Linked DNA regions of Homo sapiens: region 2 is linked to region 1. A link means that fine-mapping ties the variant in region 1 to the expression of a gene that starts in the linked region. Tissue or cell type: whole blood. Region 1 holds a variant in brackets; the other region holds the start of a gene. All regions are shown on one strand. Distances are from middle to middle.

The links. PIP is the estimated chance that this variant, and not a neighbour inherited with it, causes the effect.
Region 2: it holds the start of MAP3K2, and the variant in region 1 is fine-mapped to the expression of MAP3K2 in whole blood (TOPMed, PIP 0.99).

The regions. Positions count from the first base shown.
Region 1 is chr2:127,294,066-127,302,154 of GRCh38, reverse strand. It overlaps ERCC3 (ERCC excision repair 3, TFIIH core complex helicase subunit), which reads left to right and starts at 8,011. Exons shown (of 15, transcript NM_000122.2): 1 at 8,011-8,089. The coding sequence starts at 8,074. It overlaps MAP3K2 (mitogen-activated protein kinase kinase kinase 2), which reads left to right. Exons shown (of 17, transcript NM_001371910.2): 17 at 1-3,487. The variant T/A (reference allele first, on the strand shown) is at 3,201.
Region 2 is chr2:127,383,749-127,391,853 of GRCh38, reverse strand. MAP3K2 (mitogen-activated protein kinase kinase kinase 2) reads left to right here and starts at 3,879. Exons shown (of 17, transcript NM_001371910.2): 1 at 3,879-4,402. It overlaps MAP3K2-DT (MAP3K2 divergent transcript), which reads right to left and starts at 4,416. Exons shown (of 4, transcript NR_187129.1): 1 at 4,302-4,416; 2 at 2,856-2,973; 3 at 2,669-2,743. It overlaps LOC124906074 (a long non-coding RNA gene), which reads right to left. Exons shown (of 4, transcript XR_007087227.1): 3 at 6,299-6,330; 4 at 5,693-5,774. RefSeq lists a silencer at 3,590-4,459.

The DNA of each region.
Region 1 (8,089 bases):
AAGTAATTGATTTTACATAGTTCTTCCTGAACTTTTTGGAACTGAAATTCTGCCAAACATTATCAAAATAAGCTTCCTTAGCTTACCAAGTATTCACAAGGAAATTCTCTTGTACCTCTTTTTGGTTGGCTAGGGGAAGCATGCTGTGAAGCAGCTATTCCTACTTATAGTTGTCTTTGGCTTGGCTTTGACTTCTGCCATGGTTTGGACAGGATGCCATGGTAGGTGTGGGAAGTATCAGGGCCTCCCATCTTCCCATACTCACCTTCCAGAGCTGTTGATGGAAATGAGCTCTTGGGGGAGCCTAGAGATTCTTTTTTCAGTGGTCCTGTAAGCATTCAAGGTTGAGCTTCAGAAAGATGAGGGAGGAGTCATAGCTACAGTAAAGAAAAGAATAGATTTTATCTGTTGCCTGTATACAGTCTCATAGAATTCTTATTTTTCATAATTGTGCATTTTAATTGATAGTCATATGGTATTTTTGTTAATAACAGCAAAGGCATTAAATCAGTACCATTGTTCCTTCTGCCTGATGACTTCTTGTTTGTAACACAATCTGTATTATCAGAATCACTTTAAACCAAAGCTTTTATATTCCCTGTACACATAGCCAAAATAATTAGCACTGTTACTTCTGTCCACTTGTAAGCTAATAGTATAAAAATTATAAAGCAGATACTAGTAGAATTTGTATTCTGGTATATCCTTCAAGGAAAAGGACAGGTGATCAGTGCATTTAGACATCCAGAAGTTACTTCCACTATTGAGGAACTATGTAGACATGAATTTAAGCTTGTACATGTGCCAATCTTGTTAATGTCACTTGACCACTGATTCACATAGACAGACATTAACGTCTGATGCCTCAGGTTGATGGCGAACTTTCTTCCTAGTGTCTTAACATTTATGAACTTATGTTTGACTTGAGGGGCATTTCAGCAAAGCTGTGAGGAAAAGTAGGTTCTGGACTGATGTCTGCTTTGTGCCATAGACATTTTGGAACATAAGGAAGTATCTGCTTCTACTATATGTACAGGACTTGTCCCCAAATAATTTCTGAATCCCTTAATGCAGTTGAGAATCCCTTAATGCAGTTGAGAACAGTAAAGTTCATGACCATACCGAAAAGCACTTTTAAGTTCACTTCTTTTTAAATATTTTTTTAGAATTTATTTTTTAAAAGCATATGTAACTAGTGATGATTTTAGCATTAGCTTTACTTGGAGGGGAGAAGAAACAAAATTACACCTTAAACTCTATTAGATAGACTACAAAATGGATTTGATGTATTCTTACTTTTCCAAAGAATTTTTTCCACCTGGAATAAGAAGAGAGGACTAGTTGAAACATTTGAGCTGGAGAGGCTTATGGGCAATATGAAGTGGGCCAAATTCTTGCAATACACCCTATTCAATTGAAAGTACAGTGTCTAAGGATAAGAATACTTCTTTAAAGACCAACAATTGTTTTAATGCAATCTTAATTAGTAAATGGTTTACATTTTTTCTATTGTTATTGGTTTTAAAATTTGCTACCCTGAATTCTGAAATATTATAAGAGTTAATACCAAAAATACTTTTAATGTCTGACATCTCTTACATTTCACATGGTTCTTTTTATTCATTGTAAATAAAAGTAAACTTGGATAAATTTGAGAATAAACTTTGAATTGTTGCAAACTATGATTATCAATTTGTAAATTTACCCTTTGACATAATAATGTACATTTTTAAATGTAGCCATTAAATTCTCTATATTTAACCTATTGGTTTCTCTCTAAATGTTTTTAATCTCAGTTGAATGCTGGGCAGTTTATAATTATGTACAAAGGGTTTTTTTCCTATTAAGATTGACATTTTTGCACATTTTTGGAAATGTTTAATTTGTACACTGATTTACTACTCTGACCAATAATTGTTGATGAGTGTATGAGCATCATGAATGCGTGCATTGAACTACTGTCTGTGTCTTTATGTTTTAACTTCTTTCAAGATGTAGCCATCAGTTACTGCACTGCTATTACTGACTTAAATGGACCTTTTTGCTTTTACAAACTATACTTATCTATGGTTCTTTGTTGAAGAACTCAGGAGTTCGACATTAATAGAAATTAGAAAATTTTATAATGTATTATAAAATCCATTACTAAGTTGAAAGTATGCTTTTAACTGTGTATCAGGGGATGTATGTTTGTGTGGAGATGTTTTTTTCTGTCTGTAGGCACATGTATATATCCCAGTAAGTTCTTATTTTCATTTCATTTCTACATTTTTATGAACTTGTTTTATAAGGGTACTGTTTAGTTGTGATAATTAAATATATATAAAAGCTTTCTGAGAGATTATTTACTATATGAATATATTTTCAGCTGGCTGATCAAAAGTATTTTTAAAATTTTGTTTTTAGCCATTCAAAATGTATTTGTATTTTCAGAATTGAATGCAAGTCATACTTAGAGCTCAATTAAAATACTCTTGCAAGAAAAAGCATTAAATTCTCTTTGAGAATTCCGTGAAATGCAAATTAAGGGAAAAATAGGTTTTAAGCAGTAGCAAAAACACACCGCTAAAAATGGCCTTTGAATTCTCAGAGCTATGGAAAAATGTGAGAAACTAAATTGTCTCGAGATGTCAAGATTTTTCTATCTCCAGTTGCTATTGGCCTGTCCTACTGTTGTCTTTGAATATTTCCTGTATTCCACCCCAAAAGATTTCAACTTTTAGTTTTTCTATCACTGGGCAAGGTCAGACTGGGTTTATAAAACAATATATTGGCATATTGTGATTCTTTGTAATTGACTATAAATTGGTTTTGAAATGTCCAAACATACGTTGTGTGTCTTTATATTGTACTGTGTGTTTTAAGTAACTGGCAGAAAAAGAATTGGAAATGAAATTTCCAATCAGACAATGTAGTATTAAAGAAAACTTTGTTTTAAATATGCGGTACCATGTAAAATTACTCGTGTTAGGAATAAAGTCCACTGTTGAAGTTGAATGTCACTAAGCTTATTATGTTAAAAGGAACCAGTGTGATTAGGAAAACCTACCAGAAGCCAGATACAGTGTGGTACGTGCAACATTTCATGCACATTTTGATTTTGTTTGTCATTCAAAATTGTGCTTGTAAAAATGTATACAATTTCTGAGTTTTATAATTTCTAGGTACTTGTTTTTTCTTGCTGGTAAATAGCTTTTTTT[T/A]AAAAAAAAATCTAATATAAAAGAAACCATGTTTATATTTTGTTAGTGATCAATGACTTTGTTTATATGGAAATTTGTATATTGTTGGCACACATTTTGTTGAGGTTTACGTGCATGAAGGCCTGCAATAATTAGCACAATGAAAACTGCTTTTTCTTACATGTTCATTTTTTTGAAAGATTGTGGTGCAAAGGCTTACTCTAATAAGTAACCTTCTGGACTATGGAATGAATATAAATGAATGGCACTTTGAGTGTTAATAAAGCTAATATTTATTTCCACTGTGATTGGTTTTTCCAAATCTATTCTTGGACACATTTTATTTACAGTTATTCCCTCCTTGCTTGAGTTGAGCACTCTCTAGGAAACCAAGCGCAGACAAATCTAAAAACAATGAAACTAAACCAAATCTTTCCAGTATCTAAGTCTATAATGTTCCACCCAACTTGTAGTATATCTTTGGCTGGACATCTTGATTACCTAAATCAGAACTAATGATTAAAAACAAACACAAACCCTACTATCAAACCTACTGAGTATAAGGAATGGTCTCTCACATGGTGCTGGAGATTATTTATTTATTTATTTATTTATTTTGAGACAGAGTCTTGCTCTGTCGCCCAGGCTGGAGTGCAGTGGCATGATCTCGGCTCACTGCAAGCTCTGCCTCCCGCGTTCAGGCCATTCTCCTGCCTCGGTATCCTGAGTAGCTGGGACTACAGGCACCTGCCACCATGCCCAGCTAATTTTATTTGTATTTTTAGTGGAGACAGGGTTTCACCATATTAGCCAGGATGGTCTTGATCTCCTGACCTCGTGATCCATCCGCCTCGGCCTCCCAAAGTGCTGGGATTACAGGCGTGAGCCACTGCGCCTGGCGGAGATAATTTAATACTTTGGTATAGAGGGCAACTTAACACAACCTCAGAATTGAAACCTCAGAATCAGAATCAGAAACCTCAGAATTGGCCGGGCATGGTGATCCCAGCACTTTGGGAGGCCGAGGTGGGTGGACCACTTGAACTCAGGAGTTTGAGACCAGCCTGGGCAACATGGTAAAACCCTGTTTCTACAAATAATACAAAAATCAGCCACGTGTGGTGGTGCATGCCTGTGGTCCCAGCTACCCAGGAGGCTGAGGTGGGTGGGTCGCTTCAGCCTGGGAGACAGAGGTTGCAGTGAGCTGAGATTGCACCACTGCACTGCAGTCTTCATGACAGAACGAGACCCTGTCTTAAATTTCAGAACCTTGTATATCCTCTGACCCACCAATTTATACCTAGGAATTAACCTGTGGAAATAGATTGTGAATGTTTTAAGTTGTATCTATAAAAGCCCAAACTTAAAACTCTAAATGTCCAACAATAGGGGCTATTGTAACAAAGTACCACACATTAGGTGGCTTATAATAAAAAATTTATTGTCTCACAGTTACGGAGGCTAGAAGTCAGAAATCAAGGTGTGGGCAGGACCATGCTCCTTCTGACACCCATAAGGGAATCTTTCCTTGCCTCTTCCAACTTATTTTTATATATTAGAAATTGGGTCTCACTATGTTGCCCAGGTTGGCCTCATACTTCTGGGCTCCCACCTCAGCCTCCCAAGTAGCTGGGACTACATGTGCTCCATGGCGTTGTGTCCAGCTGCCTCTTCCAACTTCTGATAGCATCCCTTGGTTTGTGGCAGCATAAATCCGATCTCTGCTTCCATCAGCACGTGGTGCTTTTTGTGTGTCTATTGACACAAGTGTGTGTGCTCCCCTTTTTATAAGGAGACCAGTTACTGGATTAGGCCCACCCTAATGACCTAATTTTAACTTGATTACCTCTATAAAGACCCTGTTTCCAAATAAGGCCATACTCTGAGGTAGTAGGGGTTAGGACTTCAAAATATCTTTTTGGGTCAGGCACAGTGGCTCATGCCTGTAATCCCAGCACTTGGGGGGCCAAGGCGATGGACAACTTAAGTCCAGCAGTTCAAGACCAGCCTGGGCAACATGGTGAAACCCCGTCTGTACAAAAAAATACAAAAAGCCAGGCATGGTGGCATGCCTGTAATCTCAGCTACTTGGGAGGCTGAGGAGGGAGGATCACTTGAGCCCAGGAGGTTGAGGCTGCAGTGAGCCCAGATCGCACCACTGCACTCCAGTCTCGGCAACAGCAAGACCCCGTCTCAAAAAAAATAACTTTTTGAGGGGTGGGGGACACAATTCAACCCATAGTCTGTCCTCTGGCCCCTACAAGTTCATATCCTTCCCACATGCAAAGTACATTCACCCCATCTCAACATCAACAAAAGTCAGTCATTCTAGCATCAACTCAAAGTCCAGTATCATCTAAATATCAGTTCAAATCTCATCACCCAAATCATCCACATCAATTGACTCTGGGTTAGGTTTCCTGTTGGAGCAAATTTTCTTTCTATCTATGAACCCATGAGAACAGACAAGTTATCTGCTTCCAATTACAATGGTATAGGCAGAGGATAGACACATTCCATTCCAAAAGGGAGAAATGGGAAGGAAAAAGACTTGGAGGTGCCAAGAAAGTCTGACACCTAACAGGGCCAATGACAGGATTTTAAGGCTTGAGAATAATCCTCACTGGCTTGATCCTCTGTCCTCAGGGCCCACTGGGGTTGCAGCCCCGCACCCTCAGAACTGAGGAGGTGGTGGCCGTGGGTTCAAACCCAAGCCTGTCCCTTTCAGTCCTGTGGTGGCGGAAGCAGCCTCACTGGCCTCTGAACTGCCCCTGCCAATCCCTTTCCTACCTGTGGAATCCTGGGAGTCCAACAGCCTTCCTTCATTTCATCCCATCTATGTACCCTAGTCAAAACTGTCCAGGTTTCTGTGGAGATGGGTGATTGGGTCTATAAGCCACACACCTAATCTCTTGCAAATAAATGGTTGTCCACATCCTTAGTGTTTCTCCAGAGCATACTTTCTCTCTCTCTTTTTTTTTTTTTTTTTTTTTTTTTTTTTTTTTTTTACAATGTGAGTATAAGAATGATCCAAATCTTCAAGTTCTGGTTCCTTTTTGTTGAATAATTCCACCTTCAGTGTATCTCTTCTCACATTTCACTATAAGCAATAAGGAGAAAGCAGGCCTCAGTTTTTTTTTTTTTTTTTTTTGAGACGGAGTCTTGCTCTGTTGCCCAGGCTGGAGTGCAGTGGCGTGATCTCTGCTCACTGCAACTTCTGCCTCCTGAGTTCAAGAGATCCTCCTGCCTCAGCCTCCTGAGCAGCTGAGACTACAGGCGCGCGACACCACGCCCAGCTAATTTTTGTATTTTTAGTAGAGACGGGGATTCACCATATTGGCCAGGCTGGTATTGAACTCCTGACCTTATGATCCCCTGCCTCGGCCTCCCAAAGTGCTGGGATTACAGGCGTGAGCCACCGCGCCTGGCCCAGGCCTCACTTTGAACCATCATGTAGAAATTTCCTCAGCAAAATGTCCAAGCTTATCACTTATAAGTTCTACTTTCCACCCAACAGAATACAATTCAGGCAAGCTCTCTACCACTTGCCTCCAGTTTCAATAACATATTTCTCCTTTCCATCTGAGCCGTCACCAGAATCACCTTTAATGCCCATACTTCTACCAAGGCTCTTCAAGACAATAGAGGCTTTTCTATCATGCGCCTCAAAATTCTTTCAGCCTCTACCGATTACCCAATTTGAAAACCACTTCCCCATTGTTAGGTATTTGTTACAGCAGTACCCTATTCCCCGTACCAAAAATCTGTGTTACGTTCTCCAGAGAAACAGAACCAAGAGGCCCACTGAGCAAGCGAGATTGATTGATTGATTTTAAAGAATTGGCTCATGCAATTGTGGGGGTTGGCAAGTTGGGAATTCAGGTACGAGTTGATGTTGTAGTTTTGAGTCCAAAGGCTGGAAACTCAGTCAGAACTTTCTGTGTTGCAGTCTGGAGGCAGAATTCCTTTTTCCTTGAGAAACCTGTCTTTGCTCTTAAGGCCTTCAACTGATTTGGATGAGGCCCACCCGCATTATTGAGGGTAATCTGCTTTATTTAGGCTGAGACATGAGAATGGCATGAACCCGGGAGGCGGAGCTTGCAGTGAGCTGAAATCGCGCCACTGCATTCCAGCCTGGGCGACAGGGCGAGACTCCGTCTCAAAAAAAAAAAAAAAAAAAAGAAAAAAATTTTTTTTGAGACGAACTCTCGGCCTGTCGCCCAGGCTGTAGTGCAGTGGTGCAATCTCAGCTCAGTGCAGCCTTTACCTTCTGGGTTCAAGAGATTCTCCCATCTCAGCCTCCCAAGTAGCTTAGACTACAGGCGTGTGCCACCATGCCTGGCTACTTTTTTTTGTATTTTTCGCAGAGATGGGGTTTCACCATGTTGGCCAGGCTGGCCTCGAACTCCTGACCTCAAGTGATCCACCCACCTCAGCCTCCCAAAGTGCTGGAATTACAGGCGTGAGCCACCGTGCTCAGCCAAATTTTTTTTAATTAAAAAAAAGAATTCTTCCTTACCCATGGACTCAGGTCACATTCTCTCTCTCTCTCTCTCACACACACATTTATTGCCCACATGGCTTCATTAAAATTTAAGTTCCAGAAGGATGAGGCCTTTAATTCGCGCACTACACAGGTGCTCAACACACAGTATTTTCCTTCAGTTGTAGAGAAATGAACAGTGGAGGACCCCCGCCGCTGGGTCGCACGAGCTAACAGATCGGCGGTCGCTGGCTCTCCGCTCTTCCAGCCACCCACATCACGGCGCCTAGAGGCGGGACATCCTGTGTGGACAACAGGGAGCTTCCGGATTGAGCCGGAAGTCCCCCCAGAGCGGATGCCGCGGCGGGCCTGTGGGAGCGGGGTCATCTTCTCTCTGCTGCTGTAGCTGCCATGGGCAAAAGAGACC
Region 2 (8,105 bases), 90 kb before region 1:
ACAGAACAGACTCTTTAAGTTCAATAAGAAACATGTACAATCTATTGTCTCTGAAGCCTGCTATCTGGAGGCTTCATCCACATGATAAAACCTTGGTCTCCATAACCCCTTACGGTAACCCAGAAATTATCTTCTATTGATAGTAACTCTTTCAACCAATTGCCAATCAGAAAATCTTTGAATCCATCTATGAGTTGGAAGCCCCCACTTCCAGTTGTCCTGACTTTCTGAACCAATGTACACTTTACATGTATTGCTTGATGCTTCATGTCTCCCTAAAATGTATAAAACCAAGCTGTAATCTGGCCACCTTGGGCACATGTTCTCATGATCTCCTGAGGGCTGTATCACAGGCCATGGTCACTCATACTTGGCTCAGAACAAATCTCTTCAAATATTTTATAGAGTTTGACTCTTTCGTCAACATTCTAAAATAAAAAGTTTATTTTAAAAAAGAATGAGGGAAAGAAACAGAGGGATGGTTCCCCCTTCTTTACTGTGTGGGAGGTCATGTTTGGAGCTGAGGTGGCCGTCCATTGATTCTCAATATGCCTGTTCACAGCCCTAACCAACCTTGGATCCATCCACTGGATTTTTGTTATGTGACAAAATCAACCTCACTGTTTAAGCTGTTTTGGGCCAGGTGTCTTGCTCGCTGCAGTTGAATGCATCCCAACCAATAGTACTCGTATCATTTTCATGGCCACAGCTGTGGTTTAGACCTTTAGACTTTCATCTCCCTTCCCAGCAATTTGGCCTGCTCTAATATTCCTCCTTCCCAATCTCCTGGCAGCTCTCTTCCTTCTCTAGCTTCACCCCCTGCCTGCATTTCTCTCAACACCCAGTGGCCAGCAACTCTTGCCATTCCTAGGCAGGGCACGTTCCCTCATACTTCCAAGCTTGGACACACTTGATTCCCTCTGCCTGGAATGCGTACTCCTCCATCCTTATTTCTTCCAGCAAATAACTACCCCCGTTCAAGTTTCAGTTGCCAGCCATGGCACAATATGTGGCCAGCAAGATTCTAAGATGTCCCTGCAGATCCCTGACGGCTGGTGTACATAGCCTGCATAACCCTCAGTACTGTGAATATAATGGATTATACTCCTATGATCAGGTTATGTTATGTGACACTGTTGATGTTAAGAATAGATTATCTCAGTGGGCCTGATCTAATCATATGAACTCTCTAAAAGCCGGGTGCAGTGGCTCATGCCTGTAATCCCAGCACTTTGGGAGGCTAAGGTGGGCAAATCACGAGGTCAGGGGTCCGAGACCAGCCTGACCAACATGGTGAAAACCTGTCTCTACTAAAAATACAAAACTTAGCTGGGCGTGGGGGTGGGTGCCTGTAATCCCAGCTACTCAGGAGGCTGAGGCAGGAGAATCACTTGAACCTGGGAGGCGGAGGTTGTAGTGAGCCGAGATTGCGCCATTGCACTCCATCCTGGGCGACAGAGTGAGACTCTGTCTCAAAAATAAAAAAATAAATAAAAATAAAAGCAGAGAGTTTTCTCTGGCTGGTAGCAAAAGAGGAAGTTAGAGAGAGATCTGATGTAGGAGGATGTTTGGCACGCAAGAAGGTCTCTGTCGCTGGCTTTCAAGATGGAAGGGGTCATGTGGCAAGGAATGCAGGTGACCTCTAGGAACTGAAGGCAGGCCCAGGAAATAGGGATGTCAATCCTACAACCACAGGAAACTGAATTGTGCCCCAAAGAAGAATGAGCTTGGAAGATCTTTGCAAGGGCCTCTAGATAAAAAGTCAGCCCAGCTGATACCTTGATTTCAGCCTTGCAATATACCCTGAGTAGAGAACTCAGCCTTGCCCCTGTGCAAACTTCTGATCTGTATAACTGGGAGCTAAAAAACAGACACTGTTTTAAGTCACTAAGTTTGTGGCAGTTTGTTATGCAGCAACAGAAAAGGAACATGCCACATTTCCTCTCTGAAGTCATCTCTCACTTCCCCAGACACACCTGTGACATCTTCCTCTTGCTGCTGTGGTGCCTGATACACATCCCTCCCATGATGCAGGTCACAGTGTGTTATCATTATCCATTTACCTGTCTGCCTTCCTCACAGGATTCTGAGTTCCTGGGCAGTGGGGACTATATAATTTTATCACTGCAATCCCAGGCACAGAGTAGGAAGGCAAAAAAATATTCATTGAATGATGGTTTCATCAATAAAAAAATCCCAATATCACTAATTTGTAATCATATATACTAAAATAACCAAAGATGTCAGAGATTTAATATCTAAGCAAGAGGAAAAGTCACCAATATAAAAGGAGAATGGCGAAAAAGAAAGAATAGCTACTATAACTATACCCACGGGATGTTTCTGAGGAACCCAGAGGTGAATGAAGTCCCCGGGGTGGTAAGTGAGGGAAGGGAGTGGAGAAATGAGCAGCACTATGAGGGGAAAAAATTTATCTCTAGATTACTTAGTAAACAAACACGTTTTTATTGAATGCCTGCTATGTGGTGACCCAGTAACTGTGGAGAACAATATAGATATTTAAGATTTAAATACTATCCTCCGGCGTTCTGAGACCCTCCTTTCTGTGGCATACAGGTCTTAGAATGTTAGATTCAAGAAGGTCTTAGATTTATGCATAAGTCCCCCATTTTTTAAACAAATAGAAGCAAACTGATTTTCCACTGACCTCTGTGTTTCTGAGGTGCACATCCTTGTTCCTGTGACTTTGACACCTCTGTTAATGGGTCTGTAATAAAAATTCCTGGAAGAAACCCAGAGATATTTTGACATTACACAACAGTTTCTCCCTCAGTCTCTGCCCCACAAGTGCCAGCTCCCTTGACCCTCAGAGCCCAAGTTGGGTAGCTCCTTACCTCTGGTTCGGGTGAGTCCCATTCCCATCTCTCTCATTTCAACTGCTCCAGTGGAAATGTGGTCTGGAATATGCATGAAAGGGGTGGATCCAGAATGTACGAAGAAACCAAGAAGAAGCTGAACAGGGAAGAATGGTACAGGAAGTTGTAAGGGGTATTTAAGGAAAGGAGAAGAGATGGGGCGGAAAGGTGCTTTCTGGATCAAAGTAGGGTGAAAACGTCGGGATGCAGGTTAGTCACACCACGGAGGGCCTCACCACTAGTCTGATTAATTTGCATTTTATCCTGTGGGAGATGAGGAGCGAAAGAAAGGGTTTTAGACTCTAGCTTTGGGGGTGGGGTGTCAACTCATGTCTCTGGGCTTAAGTTTCCACATCTGTTAAGCTGGAGAAGTAATACTTGCTGGGCTAACCAATGTACACAACCAGTCATAACCAAGTATCGATGGTGATAAGAACTAAACAGAAAACACAAATAACACTTAGCCAGTCTCCAAGGGGGTGGTTTAAGGTTAGGTGGCAAGCCTGAAGTAATTTCTAAAGTCCCTCAGGAAAAAAATTCTGAAACTTGAGCCACAAATTAAGAGGCAGACGGCTTTTCTCCTTGCAAATGACCTGCCACACAGTCCGTCACTGCCTCTGCTAGCTCTGCTACCCTTGGGCCCTGTCCACAGCCCACGTGGGAGACCTTTTCACGGGATCTACTCGGATGTCTGGGATCTGGCCACTACCGCAGGCTCGAGACAACCCAGGTGCGTATGCGCCGCGCACACGGAACAGCACAGGCTGCCCCGGGGCAGGGGCGGGGGCGGGGCCGAGGCCGGGGCGGAGCCAGGACTGGGAATCCCCGCGCCGTCCGGCCGGTGGGGGCGGTGGCCTGTGTGTGGGCGTGGCGGGCCTCTGCGCAGGCGCCGACCCACTCCCCTGGGCCGGGCGCGCGCCCGCGGCGGGTTCCGCTACCGCCGGGCGGAGGGGTGCGCGCGCACGAGCGAGCGGCCGTGACGTGCGCCGCGCTACGCCCGACGTCACGGGTCCGTGTGTAGTGGCTGCCGGGCTGCCTGCCCTCAGCGGCGGCGCCTGACGAGGGTGCCGCGGCCGCTGGGCGCAGCGTTCGGGGGTTGCACGGCCCGCGGCGGCGACGAAAACAACGACCAGGACGCTCGGCGCCCCTGTCCGCAGAGTCGCCACTCCCGCCTCTTCTCCGGTCTCTAGCGACGCGGGCCCGCGGCTTCCTCCTTTCCTGCCCAGTTCCCGCGGGCCTCGGGGTTGCAGCGGCTAGAAGTGCCGAGGAGCGCCAGGAGGACCCGGCCGGCTGCGAGGATTCACGCGCCCGCCACCCCGCCCGGCCCGGGCTTCATGTGAAAGAGGGACGGGCCTGGCCCCAAGGCCCGCGCCCGACTCCTCGCGCGCCCCTCCGGTCCCCGGGGGCCCTGCGGCAGCCCCCGACCTGGGGCCGCGGTGACAGGCCGCGCTGGGGCGGAGGGGCGGGCTCGGCGGGGGCGGCCCCTCCTTGGGCCTGCGGCTCTCTACGTCCCTGCGGAGCAGCCGGTACGTGCGTGTGTGCGTGCGCGCGCGCTTGTGTGTGTGTGTGTGTGTGTGTGCGCGCGTGTGTGTCGGGGGCCGCGGGCTGGGCGCCGGGAGGGGGGCTGGCGGCGGCCTAAGCGCCGCTCCAGGGGCGGAGATTTCGCTGGGTGATTGCCTAGCTGCGGGAGGGCGGACCTTGGGCCCCCTGCATCCAGTCCTAAAGCCCAGGTCAGCGCGAAGTAGGCTGCTGGGCTGTGTTAGCTGTCAGACACGTACCCTGCAGAGATTTTAGAAGAAAGGTTGCATCTGGTCTTGGGATGAAGCAGAAATGGTACATGCAGTAAGCGAAAAAGTGCTTGTCTTTGCACTGTCACAGTGTGGTAATCTTTTGATGTAAGGTTGTTTCCCCCTTTTCTCTTTACGGAATATTTAGGTAGCACTTAGGGTGCTCTTAGTCTGCGCCCGGCAGTTGTCATGCATTATCTCTCTTCATCTTCCCAGCTCAATGAGGTGGGTAAATTGCCCCATTTTGCAGGTGAAAACTTGAGGCTCAGAGAGATTAAGGCATTTGTCCAAGGTCATGAAGGTAGTAATCCAGGAAGGCTTGGTTCGAATATGCAGATGTCTTTTTGTAAGACTGTATTTCTCGTCTTGCAAAAAATAAATACGTTTAGAAAATGAGACTAACTGGGCAGTTTCTTTAATGGGATAAATTCTAAACACATAGACAGATACAGTTTAGTTTTCCCTAACGTAAGCTCTTCGATATCTTTTGCCAAATCATTTTCTTGGCTTTAAAAAAAATTTAAAAGATGGCTTCAGATACCTTTACTTTTTATGTACTAGTACTGGACAGAAAAAAATTATTCTCTCACAAAAAATAAATACATTTGGTAAAACTGCATAGATCTTGAAAAGTCACAAATTTACTTTTGTAGTTTGACCTTGATGCCCAAAGGGAACTCACAGTTGGGTTATTTGCTTGAGATTTCCTTGTTGCAAAATTTGTTGCTGGATTATGTGGCAATTTAGTGATTTGTTCGTTGTCTTATGCAATCTTTTTTAGTTCGATGTCAAATTTTAATGCGTAGAATATCGTAGGAAGTTTGATGGTGTGATTCTTTTTCATTTGTATGGAGTGCTACTAGTCAGTGTTTATAAGTTAACTGAAAATTCTCATTTTAGCATGAGTTTTGTATTTTTTAAAACTATGGTGAGAGGAAAAAATAAGGAGCCAGAGCTCTGTACTGAAAAAAAGTCGATACATTTCCTTTGAGTAATTGAAGCTCTATGCATAATTGCAAATGTTTAACAAATCTATTGATGCCCAGTTATATTACTCTGTAATTTTCCTAGTATATTATCAAGTTGAAGAAAATTTGTGGTCTTGCAGTCTCTGTGGAGAAAAGGTGAAATTACAAAGTTAACATGTGGATGGTTTACAGATTGATTTGTTGTTTGGTTAAAATATAAACATGTTGAATCTTATTGAATTATGTTGTATATGATATCATTATAGAATGGTTATCCATGTGCCTCTTTTGAGAAACTAGCTGTTAAAGGCTTATCTTAAATAATTGGATTGCATTAGAGACTGAGTCTTATAAGCAATGTTTTAGGGGGAGCTTTTGTTTCTAGTTTACTTTATTGGTACCAAAGGGTTAAACTAACAGGTGCTGTATTAAAATAAAGTCATGTTTGATACTCTGCATTTCCTACAGCGTTGGTTTCAGGTTGATTTTCTCTTTCCCTATAGAATTGGAGCTATTTCCCCCCACCTCCCACTTTTTATTATCAAACAATTTCAAGCATACAGAAAATTTGGTAATAGTAAACCACTTGTATCTTGACCCTCTAGATTAAACATTTGTTGTTATCTTGCCATATTTGCTTTATCTATAGGTACATGTACAGGCATACCTTAGAGAGATTGTGGCTTTGGTTCCAGACCACTGCAATAAAGGAAAAGAAGTGAGTCACATAAACTTTTTAGTTTCACGGTGCATATAGTTATGTTTACAATATACTGTAGTCTATTGTGTGCAATGGCATTATGTCTAAAAAAAGTATATACCTTAATTAAAAAATTATTTATTGCTAAAAATTTCTAAAGAAATTTGAGCCTTTAGGGAATTGTAATCTTTTTGCTGGTGGAGGGTCTTGCCTCCATGTTGATGGCTGCTGACTAGTAAGGATGGTTGATAAGGGGTGGTTGTTGAAGTTTGGGATGGCTGAGGCAATTTCTTAAAGTAAGACATTAGTGAAGTTTGCCGCATCGATGGACTCTTCCTTTCAGGAAAGATTTCACTCTGGCATGTGATACTGTTTGATAACATTTTACTCACCATAGAACATTTTTCAAAATTGGAGTCAGTCCTTTCAAACCCTTCATCAACTAATTGCTTATCACCTATCATCTAAGTTGCTTATCGTTGCTTTATCAACTAAGTTTTTGTAATCTAAGTCCTTTGTTGCTACTTCAATAATATTCACATCATCTTCACTAGGAGTAGATTCCATCTCAAGAAGCCACTTTCTGTCCAGGCGTAATGGGGTCACGCTTATAATCCCAGCAGTTTGGGAGGCTGAGGCAGGAGGATTGCTTGCGCCAAGGAATTCAAGAACAGCGTGGGCAACATGGCAAAATCCCATTAAAAAAATATAGAGGTTAGCCGGTTGTGGTGATTTGGGAAGCTGAAGCAGGGAGAGTGCTTGAGCCGGGGAGGGGAGGTCAGGGCTGCAGTGAGCTGTGGCAGTGCAGACCAGCCTGGGCAACAGAGCAAGACCCTGTCTTAAAAAAAAAAAAAGGCCACTTTGTTTCCTCATCCATAAGAAGCAACTTTTCATCTGTTCAAGTTTTAGCTCTGCTTCTAATTGTAGTTCTCTTGCTCTTTCCGTCACATCTACAGTTACTTCCTCCACTGAAGTCTTAAACCCCTCAAAGTCATCCATGAGGGCTGGAATCAGCTTCTTCCAAATTCCTGTTAATGTTGATATTTTGACCTCCTCCCATGAATCATCAGTGTTCTTAATGGCATCTAGAATGATGAATCCTTTCCAGAAGGTTTTCAATTTACTTTGCTCAGATCTGTCAGAAGAATCTGATCACTGTCTATGGTAGTTATAGCCTTACAAAATGTATTTCGTTTGTTTTTCTTTTTTTAGTTTCACAGTGCGTATAAAGTTATGTTTACAATATACTGTAGTCTGTTAAGTGTGCAATGACATTCTAAAAAAGCAATATATATATATATATATATATCAATTAAAAATTATTTGTTGGCCGGGCACGGTGGCTCACGCCTGTAATCCCAGCACTTTGGGAGGCCGAGGCGGGCAGATCACGAGGTCAGGAGATCAAGACCATCCTGGCTAACAGGATGAAACCCCGTCTTTACTAAAAATACAAAACAAACAAACAAACAAAAAAAACCACTAGCCGGGCATGGTGGCGGGTGCCTGTAGTCCCAGCTACTCGGGAGGCTGAGGCAGGAGAATGGCGTGAACCCGGGAGGTGGAGCTTGCGGTGAGCAGAGATGGCGCCACTGCACTCCAGTCTGGGTGACAGAGCGAGACTCCATCTCAAAAAAAAAAAAAAAAATTATTTGTTGCCAAAAAAATGCTAGAAGAACATCTGAGCCTGGCTCAGGCTAGCCTAATTTTTTTATTTTTATTTCTATTTTTAGAGTTAGCATCTCAATGTGTTGCTCAGGCTGGTTGCAAACTC